Linked DNA regions of Homo sapiens. Changing the gene in region 1 together with any one later gene gives a genetic interaction. Each region holds a gene or a part of one and is shown on either strand. Other genes may lie near its edges.

Evidence for each region.
Region 2: changes in STAT1 (region 1) and MOK together harm fitness more than expected from each alone (negative genetic interaction), as found in Homo sapiens cells (one study listed by BioGRID).

Annotation. Positions count from the first base shown.
Region 1 is NC_000002.12:191,000,680-191,011,286, forward strand, and holds part of STAT1 (signal transducer and activator of transcription 1-alpha/beta), read right to left. Parts: intron 9,771-10,607; exon of another isoform or gene 9,693-9,770; coding exon of another isoform or gene 9,688-9,692; intron 9,326-9,687; coding exon of another isoform or gene 9,325-9,325; coding exon 9,197-9,324; intron 8,465-9,196; coding exon of another isoform or gene 8,429-8,464; coding exon 8,284-8,428; intron 6,983-8,283; coding exon 6,884-6,982; intron 485-6,883; coding exon 395-484; intron 1-394. UniProt on the Homo sapiens protein: Signal transducer and transcription activator that mediates cellular responses to interferons (IFNs), cytokine KITLG/SCF and other cytokines and other growth factors.
Region 2 is NC_000014.9:102,300,853-102,311,677, reverse strand, and holds the start of MOK (MAPK/MAK/MRK overlapping kinase), read left to right. Parts: upstream 1-6,513; 5' UTR 6,514-6,709; coding exon 6,710-6,716; intron 6,717-10,825. UniProt on the Homo sapiens protein: Able to phosphorylate several exogenous substrates and to undergo autophosphorylation. Negatively regulates cilium length in a cAMP and mTORC1 signaling-dependent manner.

The DNA.
Region 1 (10,607 bases):
CTTCCAAGTCTTAGGATAAAACAGATGACTGGGAAGGATGGGCCATGTTTATCCTGGGGCACTGTGATTTGAGAGGTGTGGACATAAAGGCCCATTTAGAGCAGCAACATCTCATTTACTGGGTACTGGGCAAAGTCAACATTTACTGCATGATCTTTCAGGGAAGAAAAAGCTAAACTCAATGTTTGGCAGTTATAAGAGGCCATTCAAAAAGTCTATCTGGTCATTGATTTTGCCAATTTGTTTACTTATAGCTTGAGACTTCTGCAAAATTTTTCTTCCCAACTACTTAAAAGACTGAACTCAGTTACGAGGTTTACACCCCAAGCAATTGAAACCTTTTTTCCCCTACAGAAAGTTTCAGAATAAATGCATGTGTTTACTCAATACTCACCATAACCTTGTCCTTCACATTTCTGACTTTACTGTCAAGCTCTTTCTGTTTGTCTAACATCACTGTGCTCTGAATATTCCCCGACTGAGCCTGTAATGGGAAGGGCATGATTATAGCCATCGTTTTCTTCAGGGTGTGTACTTGCTGGTTACACTCCAAAGTCAAGTCCCCACTTGCCTTCCAGATCTTCTGACATGTACTACAGGCTTCCTGCTTATGTGTCAATATGAAATTTTTCCCAAGGCCCTGGAAAATGCTGGCAAACTGTTAACAAGGTTACAAAAAAACTAGGCTCAATTCATGTCTAAAATAAACAGTATTTCTGGGAGTTTCCATTAATTCATACAGTTGCATGGTACCACGCTGGAATTTAGTTCACGGTTTCTCAGATACTATACACAAGATTACTCTCATTAACTCAGTCCTTATTTATCTTAAAGCTTTCTGATTCAAAGTGTGGTCCTCAGACCAGCAGCATCTCACCACCTAGGATCTTGTTGGAAAATCTCAAGGGCTAATATGATTAGGCAATCAGAAAACCCTATTTTAACACAATTCCGGGTGATCCAGAGGTATACTGAAATATGAAATCACTCCATTAAGGCCATCAATGAAAATCTGCTACTATAAAGTCAATAATGAATATAAACCCAGACTTGCCTGGGAGTATTCAGTCCTATTTTTGATAATCAGAACACTCAGAAGTGACAGGGTCTCTACTTGCTTCATACACCAGATGTACCCTGCACATACTAGGTACTAAGTAAATGTCAGGCAATGCTCTAGGCTCGGGTGTTAGAGTGGTAACCAGTGATCCCTGTTCTCATAGAGATTAAATTCTAGAAAGATGTTATTTTTTTAGAGTTAAATCCCCCACACAGCAAAAACTGTGCTTGTCAACCTTTCTTACACAGTGCCCTATACAGCACAGATTCTACGGGGGTGTTTTTATATGTGCAATTGTATCATCTTTTCTTCATGTCTGGAATTTTCCTTATATTAGAAAGCCTTTCCCTATTGACATTACATCATTCACTCATTTCCCTAGCACTTGCAAGGTTTCCTTTTTTTCTTTTTAACTTTTAGATCGCTGATATATTTGTTTATTCTCATGATCAGAGTGAAGTATGGGTCCACTTTTTGCTTTCACTTTTTTTCCAGTTAGCTTTCCATTTGTCTTAACAGCATTTACTGAAAAGTCCATTATTTTCCCCAGTGCTCTGAGCTGCCAACTTTATCACATGAATTTCCATATGCACACGGGTTTCCTTCTAGATTTTTCTCTTCTTTCCCATTGGCCTTTTTATTCATAAGCCTGAACCCTTGAAGGATGTTTGACTATAGAGGATTTATAGTCTGTCTAGTAGGGCCAGTCCCATTTCATTGCTCTACTTGTTCAGAAGTTGCCTCGCTACTCTTGCATGTTTATTTTTCATAAATTTCAGAACAAATTTGTGTAGCTCCAGAAAACAACTTGTTGGTATTTTTATTGGAATAACATTAAAATTACAAGTTAACTCAGGGAGAGCTAACATCTTTATGATGTTGTTTTTAATTCTTATGCTTCTAATGGTTTTCTCTTGTCTAATTGCATTGGCCAATACCACCAATACGATGCTAAATAGCAGTGGAAACACAGCATCCTTGCTGTGTTTCTGACTTACTGGAGTTTTCCCAGTTAGGTAAGATACTGTCTCTAGAATGGAGATATATATATTTTTTTGTGTTAAAGAGGTACCCATCAATTCCTATCTTATTCAATGTTTTTATGAGGAATGAGTATTGAATTCTGTTAGATCTTTTCAGCTTCTGTGGAAGGAAGTAAATGCTTTTTTCTCCTTGTAGCTATTAATTTAGTGAATTGCATTAATAGGTTGCCCAGTCATGGACTACCCTTGTAACCTATAATAAATCATATTTGGTCATGTCCTTTCTTAATGTAGTATTTAATTCTGATCCCTAATATCTTATTGAGGACTTTTATATTGATACTCATAAGTAAAATTGGTCCATAATTTTTTGTTTTATCTTTATCAGGCATACGTCATCAAAGTTATTCTCTCTTCATAGGAAGTTTTCCTTCATGTTACATATTCTCCAACAGCAGAAGTTCAAAGCATGTGAATTGTATCAGCTGTAAAGTGTGTATTAGAAATACATGAATGTTACTGGTATCCTCTGTAAGTCCAAGGTGCCACATATCACTCAGTGACAAAAGGGGTTTCTCTGGGCGGTTGGAATAAGTTGTCACTTTGAGGAGTTCCATACAGCTTTCTGCCTGTGCAGGGAAATCTTTGCTGTTGTCTAATTCTGACATGGTTTGGATCTGTGTCCCCACCCAAATCTCATGAATTGTAATCCCCATTGTTGGAGGTGGGGCCTGGTGGAAGGTGACTGGATCACGGGGACAGTTTCTCATGAATAGTTTAGCACCATCCTCTTGGTACTATCCTTGTGATCACGAGTTCTCACAAGATCTGGTTAAGTGTGGAGCACCTCTCCCCTGCTTCCTCCTGCTCTGGCCATGTGATATGTGTGCTTCCCCTTCACCTGCTGCTATGACTGTAAGTTTCCTGAGGCCTCCCCAGAAACTGAGCAGATGCCAGCACCATGCTTCCTGTAACAGCCTGCAGAACCATAAGTCAATTAAACCTCTTTTCTTATAAATTACCCAGTCTCAGGTATTTCTTTATAGCCATGCAAGAACAGACTAATACAACTTCTAAGCCAGCAGGATGTGGGCACGGTGTCCTGTGGGCTTTGTAACAGCTGGGACACTACACCTAGAGAGAGGGACCAGGCCACTGGAGAATTCTGACTTCCCAGGCCTCCTCCCAAATGACCAAGGCTCGGTTTAGAGAACAGGGATATAAACAATGGCTGTAAAACAGCAGCTACATCCCCAGCTTCTACATCCCCTTTCTACTGACTTGCTGGGAGATGCTTGGTGGAAAAACCTGGTGACTGTGGCAGGGCCTAAGAAATCTCCTGCTTCCAACTTGGGCAGTAGTCCCTCCAAGTCACTCAAACCCTTGGTGCTCTCTTACCCCTTCCACTCATCCCTCCCTGCTTCCCTCCACCCTGCCCCCATCTGCTAAGCAGATGCTTGGCTGCTCCTGTACACTTTAGTACTGATACCACTTTCACAGTGAGTCCTTAACTTTTTAACTTTCTAAGAAACCAGGAGTACTGAAACCACGGGAATTTCAAACACTGAAGTTGGAAGGGACTTCGGCTGTCATTGACTCTTACTTTCTCGTTTCACTACTGTACCTCTAGAGACCTTGTTTGGATGGGAACTTGGTTACTCCAGACCCCAGAGCAAAGAAAAGTCTTCTGCTCAGGAAGGGGGTCCTTTCCAATGGAGTGAGCAGTTGTCCAAGTAAGGGAATAGGCACTCCATGGGTGTGAGAAGTTCCAGCCAGAAAGCCCTCATATCCCATCCCACAGATTAGAAAACTGAAAAGTGACTTCTCCAGTGAACTAGTTTTAGAGTTGGACAATACTGGGTTTAAATTCCAAACCTACTTCTCATTAGCTCTGTGGCTCTGAGTGAAGTACCTGACCTCTAAACCTTAGTTTTCTCATCTTTAAAATGGGGATAAGAATACCTAACTTCAGTGATAGTTTCGAAAGTATTTACTCAAATGAAATAATGTTTATAAAGTGCTTAGCACAGGGCCTGAAACATGATAAGCACTCAGCATATGGTAACCATTAGTCCTTAAGAACACAAAGATGGAACAGCAAAGGAAGCTTAGAATCCACCTCATGTCTTTCCCTCCCACCTGAAAGAAATTCTCCCCATCCCTTCAGACCCTATGGACCTAAATTTTTGTCTAGACATGCAACTAGCTTTTTCACCACAAAGAAAAAAAGAAAGAAAAAAACTTAGTGTGCTGTAAGACAGCACACGAAACATTTATAGTCTACTACAGTGTGTATAGCATAATATTCTCTTAAATGTATTTTCTAAAAGCTCTTATATTAAAAAACAATGGGAACAATAATTTCCCATCTCGGCATGTCTATAGAATTTTGTGGTCTCTAAATGATCTGAACTAACTCGGAATTTTGCATGTTTTTAACTTGTTGAATCTGTTGAATCCCCATGTACCTATCACAGTTTCAACAATTAGCATTCATGGATGGCCTTGTTTCATCCCTATTCTCCTTACTCTTCTAGTCCCCAAATGGGATTATTTGAAGCAAATACCAGACATCACACCATTCCATACACATATACTTTAGCATGAATAGAATATACACAGTCATGTACCACATAACAATGGTTCAGTCAACGATGGACCGCGTATATGACAGTGGCCCCATAAGATTAGAATGGAGCTTTATGGGGGTACCACCTTTTATCTTTTACACACTATCTGTACTGTACCTTTTCTATGTTTAGATACACAAATAACATTGTGTTACAATTGCCCATAGCGTTCAGTACAACTTCATATTGTACAGGTTTGTAGCCTAGGAGCAATAGGCTTTACCATATAGTGTAGGTGTATGGTAGGTTATACCACCTGGGTTTGTGTAAGTGCACTCTATAATGTTTGCACAAAAACGCGATCACCTAGTGGTGCATTTCTCAGAATGTATCTGTGTCATTAAGTGATGCATGTCTGTATTAATAAAATAAAGTTACTTCAACAAGGGGGGAAATGGTGAAGAAATGTTTCTGACCTACCTAGCCAATAGTTGGCTGGATAACTTTGGAAAGGAGGCACCTATTGTGCCTTTTCCCTTTCCCTGACATCCCCAGACACCCAGAAACTTCCCTCACACCCCAAGAAGGCTTTGCAAAGGTGTTCACGGACTCAGGTGTCCTCTGAGAGGCTCAAAACAATCCCCAGATTACCTACATTTTTAATGGGGAGGGAGCTCAAAAGCTGGTAAACCTTCAAGATCCAAAGCCAGGGGATGAGGTTCATGTGGGAGAGCAGGGGTCACCTACTCTGCTGCCAATGCCATCTCTGGGCCAAGGGGCCAAATGTGAGGATGACATGCTTGCAGCTGGGGGAAACAGGTTGTCCTTCTGCCCATCTTTGCTCCTGGCTGTCCTTTCAAGTCTATTAGAAATACAGAGGAGGCCCACGCATACTACTTTTAGGATGGAAGCCCCATATAATCAAAACTGCCGGCTGAAAATCTCCCAGGTATATGCCAGGTTAGAGACAGGCACACCTCTTTCAGAGGAGACAACCTGGCCAGCTTCTCCTCCAGCGTTGATATACACCTTTGTTCCCTAGGCTGGGTACCAGATGAGCTAGCCAGCTTGAGTTTAGAATAAGCAATATGTATCTTTACATGCTCAGTTCAGCAAGATGCTATCAGTGTGACAAGAAGATGGGAACTATACGCCTAGGGAAGTGACAGGATTACAAGGACTGGGACAAATGCTCAGGCAGTGTGTGGAGAATGGCATCCTCCACCACACCTAAACTCCCTCCCTCTCCACTGTCACACAGTTCACTTCGGTAGTTATTTGTTGGTGAAATGCACACAGGATGCATACTGTGTCCTCTGGCATCCATATAGCAATGGGCTCCTCCAGAACAATCCATAACATGGTGGCTTCACACTGCCTGCCTGTTGGCTTGTTGTCACCACCCCAGTGCTCAAGAAAGGAATACTAAATGCCATAGCAAATTCAAAACTCTGCTGAACCCTGACAACTAGGAAGGTTTGTATTAGGATTAATAAAACAATGATCAAAAATCTTGATACTAGTACAACTCTGACTCATTTACTGTTTGATGCCTTGAATATTTAATAGGTATCTTGATGTTGCTCAAAACAAAGCCCTTGATTTTCCCATCAGCCTCCTTTTCTCTCCACAAACCTATTGAGTCCTACAAAACTCCTGCCCCTGCCCCCTCCTTGCCTTCCCAGCTCCGTGTACAGCATTACCATTTTTCAAGGGGTTCTAGTAGCTGCTGTAGAGCCATCCTTGACTTTCTGCTCTCACTCCTGCATCTAATCCTTCAACATAAGGATCCTTCTATATTGGTATCACATCCAAAGCATAACCTGAATCTGTCCACCTCTTCCTACCTCCACTGATTCTACTGAGCGCAAGCTTCCACTGCCTCTACCTTGGACAGCTGCAAGAACCCTCTATCTGCCTGCTTCCATTCCTGTGCCAGCAACTCAGAGGCCTTTCCTGACCCTGATCTAAAGGAACAACCCCACTCCCAGCCACTCCATGAATTCAGCATGTTATCTTCTCAGCACTTTATGCTACCCAGAAGTATCTTGTTTATATGTTCTCTCTCCTCGTTAGAACTTAATTCCATTAGATTAGGATCTTTCTTAAAGCCTGGTTCTATAAAATCTCTAAATCTGATTCTCCCACTTCTTGGGGCTATAAAATTAGAGAGATATTCATCATTGCTTTGACATGGGCCCTAATAGTATTTGATGAATGAATACATTTTTATTTTATTACAGTTTATGTGTTCAATGAGAAAAAAGTACCTGATTAAATCTCTGGGCGTTTTCCAGAATTTTCCTTTCTTCCTTCAGACAGCTGTAAATGATCATAGACATCTGGATTGGGTCTTCCTGAAAATTATCCTAGATTTGAGTGGTTAGAACAAAAATAAATTAAAATGCAGAATGTTTACTTTATTGTGTATTGTAAGTTGATATGAATTTGTTTATATTCTCCGGGAAACCTCATCTCTCATCTATTAAATTCTATATAAGCTATGTTTGTTAAAATCAAAATATTTCTTTCACGAATTATGACAAAAATTGCTTTAACTTTCTAAGTGCAGGTACCTAACGTACTTTTTGATTTAAAAACAAGTATTTTCACATATGGTTCACATAATATTTTTACTTTAATATCTTTCCATATTTCTTAAGGCCAATTATCTTTGGTTAGGATCCCGAGACAATGCAAATGATATAAAAACTATACATGACATTCCTCAATGAATGCATCTGTTGGTCTAAGCTTTGAACTAGACCAAAGATATTCATCTAGGGTTTTCTGTTGCCATTGTCAAAGCTAGTTTGCAAAACACTACCAATAGCAATAATGGCTCTTTATACAGGTACATTCATGCAAGGTCTGTATGAGAACAAATTTCTGTAAAGTTAATTTGATTTCCCCACTCGTAAATAAAATCATAAATACATTCACAAAGGAAAAAAAACAACTTCCAATTACCTAAGCTGAAAAGTTCAGTTGTATTGTATGAAAGAAGAAAATGATAGCTTTCACCTCCATTAAAACAGAAAAGTTCTGTTATTACACAACATAAATATGATAGCCACCCCAAGGGCATGCTGGGAGTACATCTGAAGAACCCCTAAAACTCTATAGCATGTTCTCTCATGTCTGGATCTTTCTTTGACTTTCTCTTCCAGGAGAGGCCAACTCCACCAGAAGCAAGGCAAGGTGGAGTCTAGTTCCTGAAGTCACCTGACTTCCTTAGGTGAAAGTCAAACCTTTCCTGTTTTATTCCTCATTTGCATAGCAAGGACCTGAACCTAACCACTAATGTTCCCTGGAGCTTTAATGTATTACTATAGATCATTGCTCTTAAAATGTAGCCCCTTTTCTTTGGTTTAAATATTGACAATTTTTAGTAAAACAAAATTATAGCATCACATTTTTCTCAGGATTACTGATACCTAAGAGGTGATACATTTAACCCTAAAAATTCCTTCTGTGTTTATAAAATAAATTGGTATCTTATTTTACTTATGCTATATTTACTGATGCTGTAGAAAACATAAATGGAGTTAGTCTCTATTACTTCTCTAAATACCAATAAGTGTGTGCTCAATTGTATTTGCTGAATGAAGAAAACTGCCTTCCATAAACATGAGAACATTTCAACTAAAATACAAAAACCAGGTCATACCTGAAGATTACGCTTGCTTTTCCTTATGTTATGCTGTAGCAAGAAGTTATTCTCCAAAGAAAAGCGACTATATTGATCATCCAGCTGTGACAGGAGGTCATGAAAACGGATGGTGGCAAATGAAACATCATTGGCAGCGTGCTCCCTAGGAGATTTAACATTTACACATTTCATTCTAGAACTAAATGTCTATGTAAAACAGACAAAACAAATGTTGGTTTCCTTATTGAAATTATTAAAAATAATTTAAGTATTTTCTTAGGTTTATTTTCTTCTTTTGAAACTGACATTGCTTTTAGCAGCAGTTTATGTGGTATTTCTCTTATGTGCAATTAGCACAAAAAATTCTAAACTCTAAGAGATTGTGCATGACAGTGTTCATGGTGACTATCTCTGAAGGGGGAAAAGTCAACAGGGGACCCTTCACTTTCTATGTCAAATACTTTCAGGACGTTTTTAAATTAGCAAATAATAAATTTTAAAGTAGAACACCTATCAGTTAAAAAAAATCCCCTTAATTTTACTACCTTCTTCATATTTCTAATCAATGTTTAACCATTAATTTGGCTTTATTTCTTTTAAATTACTTCTTTCTATAGTCTGGATCCTAAGTTGGAAAATAATCGGTGTCAGTATTCCGTAACTTGTCCAAAGCATTTAGGAATATCTATCATAAATTAAATTTGGCAAAACTGTATAAAAGTGCTTAATGACTAATATACTTAACTTTGTTGAGACACTTTTTGGCTCAACTTTGTTGAGTCATTTTTTAAATCAACAAACTTTTCTACAACAAATAATTCCAGTGGCCATTGATGGAATTCATCTTCCAGTAAACATGGCCCCAAGTCACTTAATCAACCAGTACTTTTAAGGTGTAAACTTCTTCTTCTGTCTAGTGAATTTTCCTTACCAGTCTTGCTTTTCTAACCACTGTGCCAGGTACTGTCTGATTTCCATGGGAAAACTGTCATCATAAAGCTGGTGAACCTGCTCCAGGAATTTTGAGTCAAGCTGCTGAAGTTCGTACCACTGAGACATCCTATAGGGAAAAAGAATATACATTCTTTCTATGTATATGGAAACCATAGCTCCAAAGAAAGCCTTCCTAGCATCAGGTTGTACTCTTAAATATCTTGCTTAATCCAAAACATAGTTTGTCCCAGGAATATTTTATTTAAATGGCATTTATAGTCTAAAGCCTGTTTTTAATTGAGTTTGGGGATGAACTTTTTTTCTCCTCCACGAAACACATCTTCATGTCTTTGCTTATTGTCAACATATCAGGGCAGCCTTCTCTGGCCTCTTTTATTTAAACTGCAACCACCTCCCACCCTGGAAACATGCTCTCTCTTTTCCCTGGTTTATTTTTCTTCATAGTACTTACACCACCATCTGACCTACCACATATTTTATTTTCATTATTGTCTGTTTTCACCACTTGAAGGGATGGATGTTGGTGGAGGATTCTGTGCACTGGTGTATCCCTAGAACAATGTCAACCACATAGTAGGTATCCAATAAATATGCCTTTAAAATGAGTTTGTGATTTTATCAAATAAATACATGAAAAACATTATTTTAATTAGACTTGCTTTAAGACAAATCACAAGACTCTCCCAAAATTGCTCTCCTACAAATCACAGTACATTTGTAATTTAACTCAAATATTTTCAAACTTCTGTTTTATATTTATGATTCATATGGTAAAATTCATTATTTTTCTTATACACATTTAAAAAGATATATTTTCTTCTTTGCCTACTACAAACAATAAATCTGGCATAAAGAAGTAATGATTTTTAAAGATTAAAACATCATTAAATGTAATTTAAAAGGATAAAGTAACACTTAGCTTTTTGGATAACTGTTAAGTCCATTTTTACATAGTGATCCTAAAGATTCAAAATCACAACAAAAACTTGATATAAGCAAGTCCTAAAATTCATTAGGAAAACGGAGAGTCTCCCATGACCATCATGTAACTTAGGATTTATATCAGCACACAGGTGGCAATATGCAGAGCAGACACAAGTGAATCTTGTCCTGCCAGACCTCTGGGGAAGGAGTCTGGATTTTCAAGTAGGGCATGGAAGAGTGTGTATGCATACTTGTAGCCGAGCACATGTATGCAGGCATGAGGTCACGCCTACTCCACAAATGTCCTTCCAAAGGAGTGTGAGGAAATGTCTGGCCTATAAAGCTAGTTATCCTCATATATACCAGTAGAAACGGACCCAAGCCCAGCCCCTTGGCACTCCTGCTGAAGCAATTTGATTTTTCAGTTCAGTTTTATTTTACCTGAGTGGAAAAATCTGTGGCTG
Region 2 (10,825 bases), on another chromosome or scaffold:
TTTAGTGACCAAGTTTCACTCTTGTTGCCCAGGCTCGAATGCCATAGCACGATCTTGGCTCACTGCAATCTCTGCCTCCGGGATTCAAGCGATTCACTTGCCTCAGCCTCTCAAGTAGCTGGGAATACAAATGTGTGCCACCATGCCCAGCTAGTTTTTTTGTGTATTTTTAGTGGAGATGGGGTTTCACCTTGTTGGCCAGGCTGGTCTCGAACTCCTGACCTCAGGTGATCCACCAGCCTCGGTCTCCAAAAGTGCTGGGATTACAGGCTTGAGCCACCATGCCCGGCCTTCTACTACCTTTTGTAGTGGGTATTTTTTTTTTTTTTTTTGAGACAAAGTCTTGCTCTGTTGCCCAGGCTGGAGTGCAGTGGTGTGATCTCGGCTCACTGCAACCTCCGCCTCCTGGGTTTGAATGATTCTCCTGCCTCAGCCTCCCAAGTAGCTAGGATTACAGGCGCCCACCACCATGCATGCCCGGCTGATTTTTATATTTTTAGTAGAGACAGTGTTTCACCATGTTGGCCAGGCTGGTCTTGAACTTCGTCTGAAAAAACTCCGTCTCAAAAAAAAAAAAAAAAAGAAAGAAAAAGGCTCACCGGAACCTCCACCTCCCAGGTTCAAGCCATTCTTGAACCTCAGGCAATCCACCCACCTCAGCCTCCCAGAGTGCTGGGATTACAGACGTGAGCCACTGCACCCAGTCTGCAGTGGATATTTTTATCCCTGCTTTACAAAAACAAGAAAACAGCAGTACTACAACTTGGCAGGAGTTACATAGTATGAGTCTCTCTCCTACCACTTTAAGAGCTGAATTTTAAGGCCAGGTGCTGTGGCTCATGCCTGTAATCCCAGCACTTTGGGAGGCAGAGGCGGGCAGATCACAAGGTCAGGAGTTCAAGACTCCACCTGACCAACACAGTGAAACCCCTGTCTCTACTAAAAATACAAAAATTAGCTGGGTGTGGTGGTGGGCGCCTGTAATCCCAGCTACTCCGGAGGCTGAGGCAAAGAATGGCTTGAACCCGGGAGGTGAACGATCCAGTGAGCCTTTTTCTTTTTCTTCTTTTTTTTTTTTTTGAGACGGAGTGTCGCTTTTGTTGCCTAGGCTGGAGTGCAATGGCGTAATCTCGGCTCACTGCAACTTCCACCTCCTGGGTTCAAGCCATTCTCCTGCCTCAGCCTCCTGAGTAGCTGGGATTACACGCATGTGCCGCCATGCCCGGTTAAGTTTGTATTTTTAGTAGAGACGAGGTTTTTCCATGTTGGTCAGGCTGGTGTTGCATTCCCGACCTCGGGTGATCCGCCCTCCTTGGCCTCCCAAAGTGCTGGGATTACAGGTGTGACCCACCGCGCCCAGCCTTCTTTTGTTTTCTTTCCTTTTTTTTCTTCTTTTCTTTTCTTTTTTTTTTTTAAGGAAGGGTCTGGCTCTGTCGCCCAGGCTGAAGTGCAGTGTCACCATCTCGGTTTCCTGCAGCCTCTGCCTCCCAGGCTTAAATGGTCCTCCCACCTCAGCCTCCTGAGCAGCTGGGACTACAGGCATGCACCACCATGCCCAGTTAAGTTTTGCATTTTTTTTTTTTTTTTTGAGACGGTGTCTCCCTCTGTTGCCCAGGCTGGAGTGCAGTGGTGCCATCTTGGCTCACTGCAACCTCCGCCTCCCGGGTTCAAGCAATTCTCTGCCTCAGAGTAGCCAGGATTACAGGTGCCCACCACCACGCCTGGCTAATTTTTTTATAGTTTTAGTAGAGACAGGGTTTCACCATCTTGGCCAGGCTGGTCTTGAACTCCTGACCTTGTGATCTGCCGGCCTCAGCCTCCCAAAGTGCTGGGATTACAGGCATGAGCCACCGCGCCTGGCCAATTTTTGTATTTTTTGTATTATTATTGTTATTTTTTGAGACAACGGCTCTCTCCTGTTGCCCAGGCTGGAGGTCAGTGGTGCAAACATGGCTTATTGCAGCCTCGATTTCCCAGGCTCAGGTGATTCTCCCACTTTAGGCTTCTGAGTAGCTGGGACTGCAGGCACCTGCCACCAAGCCCAGCTAATTTTTTGTATTTTTAGTAGATAAGGGGTTTCACCATGTTGCCTCGGCTGGTCTCGAACCCCTGAGCTCAAGCCATCCGCTTGCCTCGGCCTCCTAAAGTGCTGGGATTACAGGTGTGAGCCACTATTCCTGGCCAGGAAACCTTTTCTTACACTTAAAAAATTCTAAATGTATTTCTTTGAGTTCCTTTTTCTCAGAAACCTACACAGACTTCTTCGTAGACAGAATTTTACCTATTTTTGCATCCACACTAGACCAGGATCTAATTTCTAGAGTGCTTGGTTAACTACCATCCTTCATGTTAATTTCAGTGGCTAATGTTTTTGCTCCTCCTTATTTAATATCCTTGTTCAAGCTTAGTTTTCCCTGAGATGTGTTTATTATTTTACAAAATCAATCTAATTTCTAATATCTTTAGGTAGATTTGCGTTTTACCCACTTTAACAGTGTTAACACGTTTGAAATGTCTGTCATCCCTAGCTTTTCTGACTTGTTTCCTGGTTTGAACCTTAATTCAGATGCTCAGCAGAAGGAAATAGGTTGTCTGCTAAACATAGCCACATGGCTGAATCCCTTGACATTGGCAAATAGGGAAAAACTAATGCTAGAATATGGGATGAACAGTCTGAGGGAGTTTTAGAACGATTCAAAAAGCTCAAGTGGTTATAATTAGGTAGTGTTCATACAGTTTTAAAAGCGGAGCTCTGGAACTGGGCGCGGTGGCTAACGCCTGTAATCCCAGCACTTTGGGAGGCTGAGGCAGGTGAATCACCTGAGGTCAGGAGTTCGAGACCAGCCTGACCAATATGGTGAAACCCCATCTCTACTAAAAATACAAAAATTAGCCAGGTGTGGTGGCACGTGCCTGTAGTCCCAGCTACTTGGGAGGCTGAGACAGGAGAATTGCTTGAACCTGGGAGGCAGAGGTTGTAGTGAGCCGAGATCAAGCCACAGTACTCCAGCCTGCGTGACAGAGCAAGACTCTGTCTCAAAAAAAAAAATTTAAAAATAATAACTTAATAAAAAAAAAAAGCAGAGCTCTGAGATGCGTGGTGGTTCCATTTCACAAGCGTTTCCTGAGCATGTAATATGTGCTGAGCAGGCTCCTGGCTCTGGGTGAGCTGGGCAGGTGAGAGGCTTGGGGTGAAGACCCTCTCTGGAGGAGTTCACAGCCTGGTACTTCTTACTTATCTGTCCATTCAGGGCTGGAGTGGCCCAGCTAGGCAGGTGCTGAGGCCACCCAGCTGAAGCCTGAACAGGTTGACCCCTCCGCTGATGTTTGAGCGTGTTTACCACAGGAAGAGAAGCTCCTCAGCAATTGTTCCTTCTTTTCAAAGCAGCATTTCCTATTTCATTTAGAATTAAAGAAAGAATAAGGAATTCTCTAGGCCAGTGGTTTTCAAAATATGGCCACTGGTGCAGCATCACCTGGAATTTTGTGAGAGCTGCAAACTATCCCCCACTCCAGACTTACAGATTTAGAAATAATGGGGCGGAAATCCCTGATCGAATGGAACATTCTGGAGTTCGTCCCCTCACCCAACCTTAAGATGAACTTGGAACAAGGGTGCTCAGCCAGAGGGGCAGGTGAGGCCGCAAGTCCAGCTGCCCCTGTTCACCTAGGTAAGCACATAGACTGTGTCTACCCCCTGGGGGCACCTTGCTCTAAATCATCTGCCCAATCAGGACCAACATGGTCTCTACAACGTCACTTCTGAGAACCACTTGTCCACAATGAAGGGAAGAAGAAAATCCATCAGCACCTGGTGAATTGGGAAACAATGGGGCTCTCACTTGCTAAATGCATTCACCTGTTCACTTATTTAATACACTCTGCCCTGCAGGGTAGAGAAAAGACACATGAGGGGCCCAAGGAACTTAGAACCCACCTGGTTAGAAGAAACTAACAAGCAAGAGACAGGGTTAGAAATATAAATGTGACATAAGGGCAAGCCCCCAAATAAGAAAGAACACAAGAAGAGAAGAAGGGATAGATCAAATCCTAGTGGTCTGGAGAGATTAGATGTGGCTTCTCAAAGCCAACAAAGATAGCACCACCAACAATAATACACCAGCAATAATCGCTATTTATTTTTTCAACTTTTTTATTGAGAGAAAATTTACATAAAATTCACCATTGTAACCATTTATTTATTTATTATTTTTTGAGATGGAGTCTTGCTCTGTCGCCCAGACTGGAGTGTAGTGGCAGGATCTCGACTCACTGTAGCCTCCACCTCCTGGGTTCAAGTGATTCTCCCGCCTCAGCCTCCTGAGTAGCTGGGATTACAGGAGCGCATCACCACACCTGGCTAATTTTTGTATTTTTAGTAGTGACAGGGTTTCACCATGTTGGTTGGCCAGCTGGTCTCGAATTCCTGACCTCAGTTGGTCCATCCTCCTCGGCCTCCCAAAGTGCTGGGATTATAGGTGTGAGCCACCACGCCTGGCTTGTTTTGTATTTTATTTATGTATTTGCTTTTTTAGACGGAGTCTCACTCTGTCGCCCAGGCTGGAGTGCAGTGGCGCAATCTCGGCTCACTGCAACCTCCGCCTCCCGGGTTCAAGCAATTCTCTGCCTCAGCCTCCCGAGTAGCTGGGATTACAGGTGCCTGCCACCACACCCGGCTCATTTTTCTATTTTCAGTAGAGATGGGGTTTCACCATCTTGGCCAGGCTAGTCTTGAACTCCTGACCTGGGGATCCACCCGCCTTGGCCTCCCAAAGTGCTGGGATTACAGGCATCAGCCACTGTGCCCAGCCGTTTTGTATTTTTTTAGTAGAGACGGGGTTTCCCCCATGTTGGCCAGGCTGGTCTCGAACTCCTGGACTCAAGTGATCTGCCTGCCTCGGCCGCCCAACGTGCTGGGATTGCAGGTGTGAGCCACCGCGACCGGCCGCTTTCTCTTTCTTTCGAGACAAGGTCTTGCTTTGTCACCCAGGCTAGAGTGCAGTGGTGCTATCATAGCTCACTGAGCCTAGAACTCCTGGTCTCAAGATACCTCCGCCTTATTCTCCTGAATAGCTGGGTTTACAGGCATGTGCCACCGTGCCCGGCTTTTTTTTTTTTTTTTTTTTTTTTTTGAGTCTCTTGCTCTGTCGCCCAGGCTGCAGTGCAGGTGGTGCAATCTCGGCTCACTGCAAGCTCCGCCTCCAGGGTTCACGCCATTCTCCTGCCTCAGCCCCCGGAGTAGCTGGAACTATAGCGCCCGCCACTACGCCCGGCTAATTTTTTTTGTATTTTTAGTAGAGATGGGGTTTCACCGTGTTAGCCAGGATGGTCTCGATTTCCTGACCTCGTGATCTGCCCGCCTTGGCCTCCCAAAGTGCTGGGATTACAGGCGTGAGCCACCACGCCCGGAGTTTTTTTTTTTTTTTTTTTAAGAGGGAAGTGGGGTTTCTCTATGTTGCCCAGGCTGGTCTTGAATTTCTGGCCTCAAGCGATCCTCTTGCCTCGGCCTTCCAAAGTGCTGGGATTACAGGTGTGAGCCACCACACCTGGCCAATTCAGTCTTAAACCAATTTTCTGAGGCTTCGTTTTGGCAAGGCTACTTATCTGTTTTAAAAATAAACGATGTATTTTAGTAAAAGAAAAAAAATGGAGGAAAAAACAGGGTTTTGATCTCATGGAATAATTATGAGGCTAATCTAATGAGCTTCATAAAATACTATACCCATACATAGTATGCTTGTTATTTTATTGTTTTGTCAGGGTCCAGAGAACTAGGCCACTGTGTTGCTTAGGCACCGTGTCTGCACATAGTTCATTCCGGTGTACATTCATTCATCTTTACACTAGAATGTTAGTTTCAAGAACTCAGTCACCTCGTCTACACTGTCCTTTAATCCCCAATACCTGCGACAGTTCCTGGGGCAAAAACAAATGCTTGTTGAATTAAAAAGAAAAACTGGGCCGGGCGTGGTGGCTCACGCCTGTAATCCCAGCACTTCGGGAGGCCGAGGCAGGCGGATCACCTGAGGTCAGGAGTTCGAGACCAGCCTAACATGGTGAAACCCCGTCTCTACTAAAAATACAAAAACATTAGCCGGGTGTAGTGGTGGGTGCCTGTAATCCCAGCTACTTGGGAGGCTGAGGCAGGAGAATCGCTTGAAGCCGGGAGGCGGAGGTTGCAGTGAGCCGAGATCACGCCATTGCACCCCAACCTGGGTAACAGAGCGACACTCTGTCTCAAAAAAAAAAAAAAATTCCTGTAGAAGCTCCCAAGCCCAATTAAAGCTCAAGGCTATCGTCCACGTAGTGGGTTCCAAATCGCTAAGTTCCCAGGCCAGCAGGGAGAGCGAGCCGAGCGAAGGTCGCCTGTGTCAAAGGCGGGGATTTGCACAGTATTTACATGGAAGCGGAGGAAAGGCTGCTTAGCAACCGGGCTGAGGGGACGGGCTGCACTGCGCACGCGTACATGGGCGGGGCATCTTGCGCATGCGCAGGCGACAGCTCATGGCGTTCAGGGCCTGACGGTTGCTAGGGTGACAGGGACACAACATGGCGGCGGGATCTCTAACGCTCTCCTTCGAGGGACCACCACGGAGATCCTAGTGCGGGACCCCGCCTCAGGGAAGTGGAAAGCAGGGGGACAACCTTCCTGCTTCTTTCTTTTCCGTCCAGTGTCGGCAAGGGGTTGTCACCGGCTTCCGCATCCAAGATGAAGAGTGAGTGGGGCCGGGGAAAGGGGCAGGGACTGGAGAGCGAGTGGCGGGGGAGGGAGGGACTGGGGGAGCTTGAGGAGCTTGAGGGGCCTGTGGGGCCGGGCGTCGTCGCCTTCTGCCGTGGCTCGACAGGCCCGGGAGGCTCCGCATGTGGGCCCCGAATCCCCCTCGGCTGTGAGAAGCCGGTGCCCCTGGGGGAAGCTTGAGGGGTTGGGGCTAGGTTGGGAACTTTGGGGTCTCGGAGAGCCGACTCGAGTTCCCGCTCAGGCATATTTTGGTGCAGGTGCGTGGTTCTTACATTGGAGTTTAGGGAGTTGACTGTGATTCATTTTATTTTATTTTAAATGCTGGCTTGAACCTGACACTCTTTTCCTGAACATTCGGCAGAAAACGGGGGAGCGCTTACAGCGTGGCTCCCTGCCTTTTCATGATACTGGTTTAGTGACCAATTGAGAGGAAAGCTGGGCTGTGTGCTTTATTTTATTTTTTGGGTCAAGCAGTAGTGTTTTATAGGAACCACTTTTTAATAGTAGTTTTGAAGCAACCTTTTAGTTAAAAGCTGTTACTTCAAAGTTGGGAAATGAGGTAGTCATTCTAGAAAATGTAACGGGTAAAAAATTTTCTTTAGTGGGATTTGTGGATTATTGACAATCCAAGTGCAACCAGCTAGAATGATGTTTTTAAAATTATTATTACTGTACAGATATAATTGTTTATGGTTGTGAACCAGAGGTGCAGTAAAAATTCAGACCTTTGCTGTGAAAATATTATGTTAGGAGTAGTTATAATGTTAAATTTGCATTGTATCCTAATTGTCAATGGTGTACATTGCATAACATTTAAAATAATTAATCTCATTCACCCTTTACAAGGCATTTTTATTTTTATTTTATTTTGTTGGATATTGTTTAATGTTTACCTTTTTCATTAATGCACTACAAAGCTGTAGTTAGAATCCAAGGTCTACAAAAGACTTTACACTTTTACTTACAGTGCAGACTATGATACTGCACATATTTTGTACTATATTCATTTTTTTCTTCCCATCTGTTTGTTTTGAAAATTTTCAGATGTACAGGAAAGTTGCAAGAGCAGTACATTGAATATTTATAAACCCGTCCTTCACTTAGCTGCACCATTTTGCCTTATTTTTGTGTGCTCGCTTTCGCTCTGGTGTTTTCTCTCTCCCATTTATGTATTTATTTTCACTGGACCTTTCAAGAGTTAGTTGTAGACTACTAATAATTCACCACTTCTTTCAGCAGTTATCTGCCAAGAACAAGGACATTCTCCTACATCATCACAGTACAAATAACACATTTAGAAAATTTAACAATGATACAATACTCTGATACACAGTCCATATTTCAGTTTTTCCATTTATCCCAATAACATGTGTTATAGTTGTTTATATTTTTTCTATCCAATCAAGAATCACCAATTGTATTCTGTTGTCATATCTCTTTGGTCTCTTTTAATATGGTGTCCCTGCCTTTTGTGTCTTTCATGACAATGATATTTTCATTTTTATTTGGCTGTCCTCTGTAGGCCAAATGACATTTTTAAAGAATCCAGCCCAGTGTTTTGCAGAATATCGCTCAATTTGGATTTGTCTGATTTTCGCCTCATGATTAGCTTCAGCTTAAATGTTTTTACCAGGAATATGTGAGAGGCAACGTTGTGTCTCTGTCAGTGTGGCCCTTCCAGAGTGCCTGATGTCAGTTCGTTGCAGTTTTGCTGAAGTTAGATTTGATCATTTGGTTTATTTATCTACCTTCTTTTTCTCTTAGACTCTTTTTTTTTTTGGACAGGGTCTCTCTGTGTCACCCTGGCTGGAGTGCAGTGGTGCAATCTTGGCTCACTGCAACCTCTGCCTCCCGGGTTCAAGTGATTCTCCTACCTCAGCCTCCCAAGTAGCTGAGATTACAGGTGTGCACCACCACGCCCAGCTAACTTGTATTTTTTGGTAGAGACGGGGTTTCAACATGTTGGCCAGGCTGGTCTCAAACTCCTGACGTCAAGCGATCCACCCGCCTCAGCCTCCCAAAGTGTTGGAATTACAGACGCGAGCCACTGTGCCTGGCCTTCCTCTTAGACTCTTCATACCCCACTACCTAGAGGCATCACTTTCAGTAATTTACTCTCTCTATATATATTATATATAAATATATAAATGTGTATTTCTCCCTTTTTAAAAGACTAATGTTAGCACTGCATGTGTATACCTATATAGAAATATGTACATATGCTGCCTGGGCGCAGTGGCTCACACCTGTAATGCCAACACTTTGGGAGGCCGAGGCGGGCAGATCACGAGTTCAGGAGATCAATACCATCCCAGCTAACACGGTGAAACCCCGGCTCTACTAAAAATACAAAAAATTAGCCAGGCGTGGTGGTGGGCACCTGTAGTCCCAGCTACTCGGGAGGCTGAGGCAGGAGAATGGCGTGGACCTGGGAGGCAGAGCTTGCAGTGAGCTGAGATCGGGCCACTGTACTGCAGCCTGGGCAACAAAGCAAGAGACTCCGTCTCAAAAAAAAAGAAAATAAATATGTATATATGCGTATATATATATAAAATTTACATTTGTGGGCCGGGTGCAGTGGCTCACGCCTGTAATCCCAGCACTTTGAGAGGCTGAGGTGGGTGGATCACTTGAGGTCAGGAGTTCGAGACCAGCCTGGTCAACATGGTGAAACCCCGTCTCTACTAAAAATACAAAAATTAGTCAGGCGTGGTGGCAGGTGCCTGTAATCCCAGCTACTTGGGAGGCTGAGGCAGGGGAATCGCTTGAACCTGGGAGGGGGGCGTTGCAGTGAGCTGAGATCGCACTACTGCACTCCAGCCTGGGCAACAGAGCAAAAAAAAAAAAAAAAGTATATGTGTGTATACATATAAAATTTACATTTATGGGGCGGGTGCAGTGGCTCACGCCTGTAATCCCAGCACTTCGGGACGCCGAGGTTGGCTGATCACTTGAGGTCAGGAGTTCGAGACCAGCCTGGCCAATGTGGTGAAACCCCATCTCAACCAAAAAATACAAGAAAAAAAAAATCAAAACAAAACAAAATACACAAAAAATGTACATTTATGATTTACTTCTTGTAAACTTTTGTTTTTAAAGTATATTTAGTATTGTTTGGTATGTTCTTTTAGATGGTCATTTTGGTAGTTTTCGGTTACTTGGTTTAGTGGTGACATCTTTATTCTCCCTTTCTTCCTTCTACCTTAAAATGTACTCTAAGAATTATTGTAACCTTTTATCCCCCTGGTTTACATCCTGATCATTAAATAAATGATTTAAAAATAGTTAACAATGGAGAGAATATTCCAGAACTGGAAATCACAGAGACAGAGTTATAGAAGTAGAATGATCAGGAAAAGTGAGTAATGGTGAAATTGGATCCATAGCTTGGGGTCAGAGTGGGGCTGGGAATGCTAGATTATTACAGGGGTCTGTCAGGATTTTCTAGGTATATTTTTGTACTTGTTTTCTAGGTGATGCCCTGTGTTTAGGGGTGTGTTATTCTGTGGAGTATTCCTGTCCTTCTTTTTATTTGGCATCGTTTGCAACAGTAGAGAGCAAAGAGTGACACAGTGCAGTTGATAAGAGCGTGGGCTTTGGAACCGGGTGGGCATGGCAGCTTCAGGCATGTTACTTTTTCTTATACTGCTTTTCTTCATTGTTCCGGTTATCTATTGCTGCGTAACAGATCACTTCAATTTTGTGGCTTAAAGGAACAACAGTCCTTCTTGTGGTTCTTCAGGTTGCCTGGATTCAACTAGGCAGGTCTTACTGGAAGTCTCTCATGCACTCAGATGGTGGCTGGAGCTGAAGTCATCTTAAAAGTTTGTTTTTTATTTTGAGATGGAGTCTCACTCTGTTGGCCAGGCTGGAATGAGTACAGTGGCACAATCTTGGCTCACTGCAACCTCTGCCTCCTGGGTTCAAGCGATTCTCCTGTCTCAGCCTCCTGAGTAGCTGGGATTTTAGGCGCACCACCACACCTGGCTAATTTTTATATTTTGAGTAGAGACGGGGTTTCACCATGTTGTTCAGGCTGGTCAAGAACTCCTGACCTCAGGTGATCCACCTGCCTTGGCCTTCCAA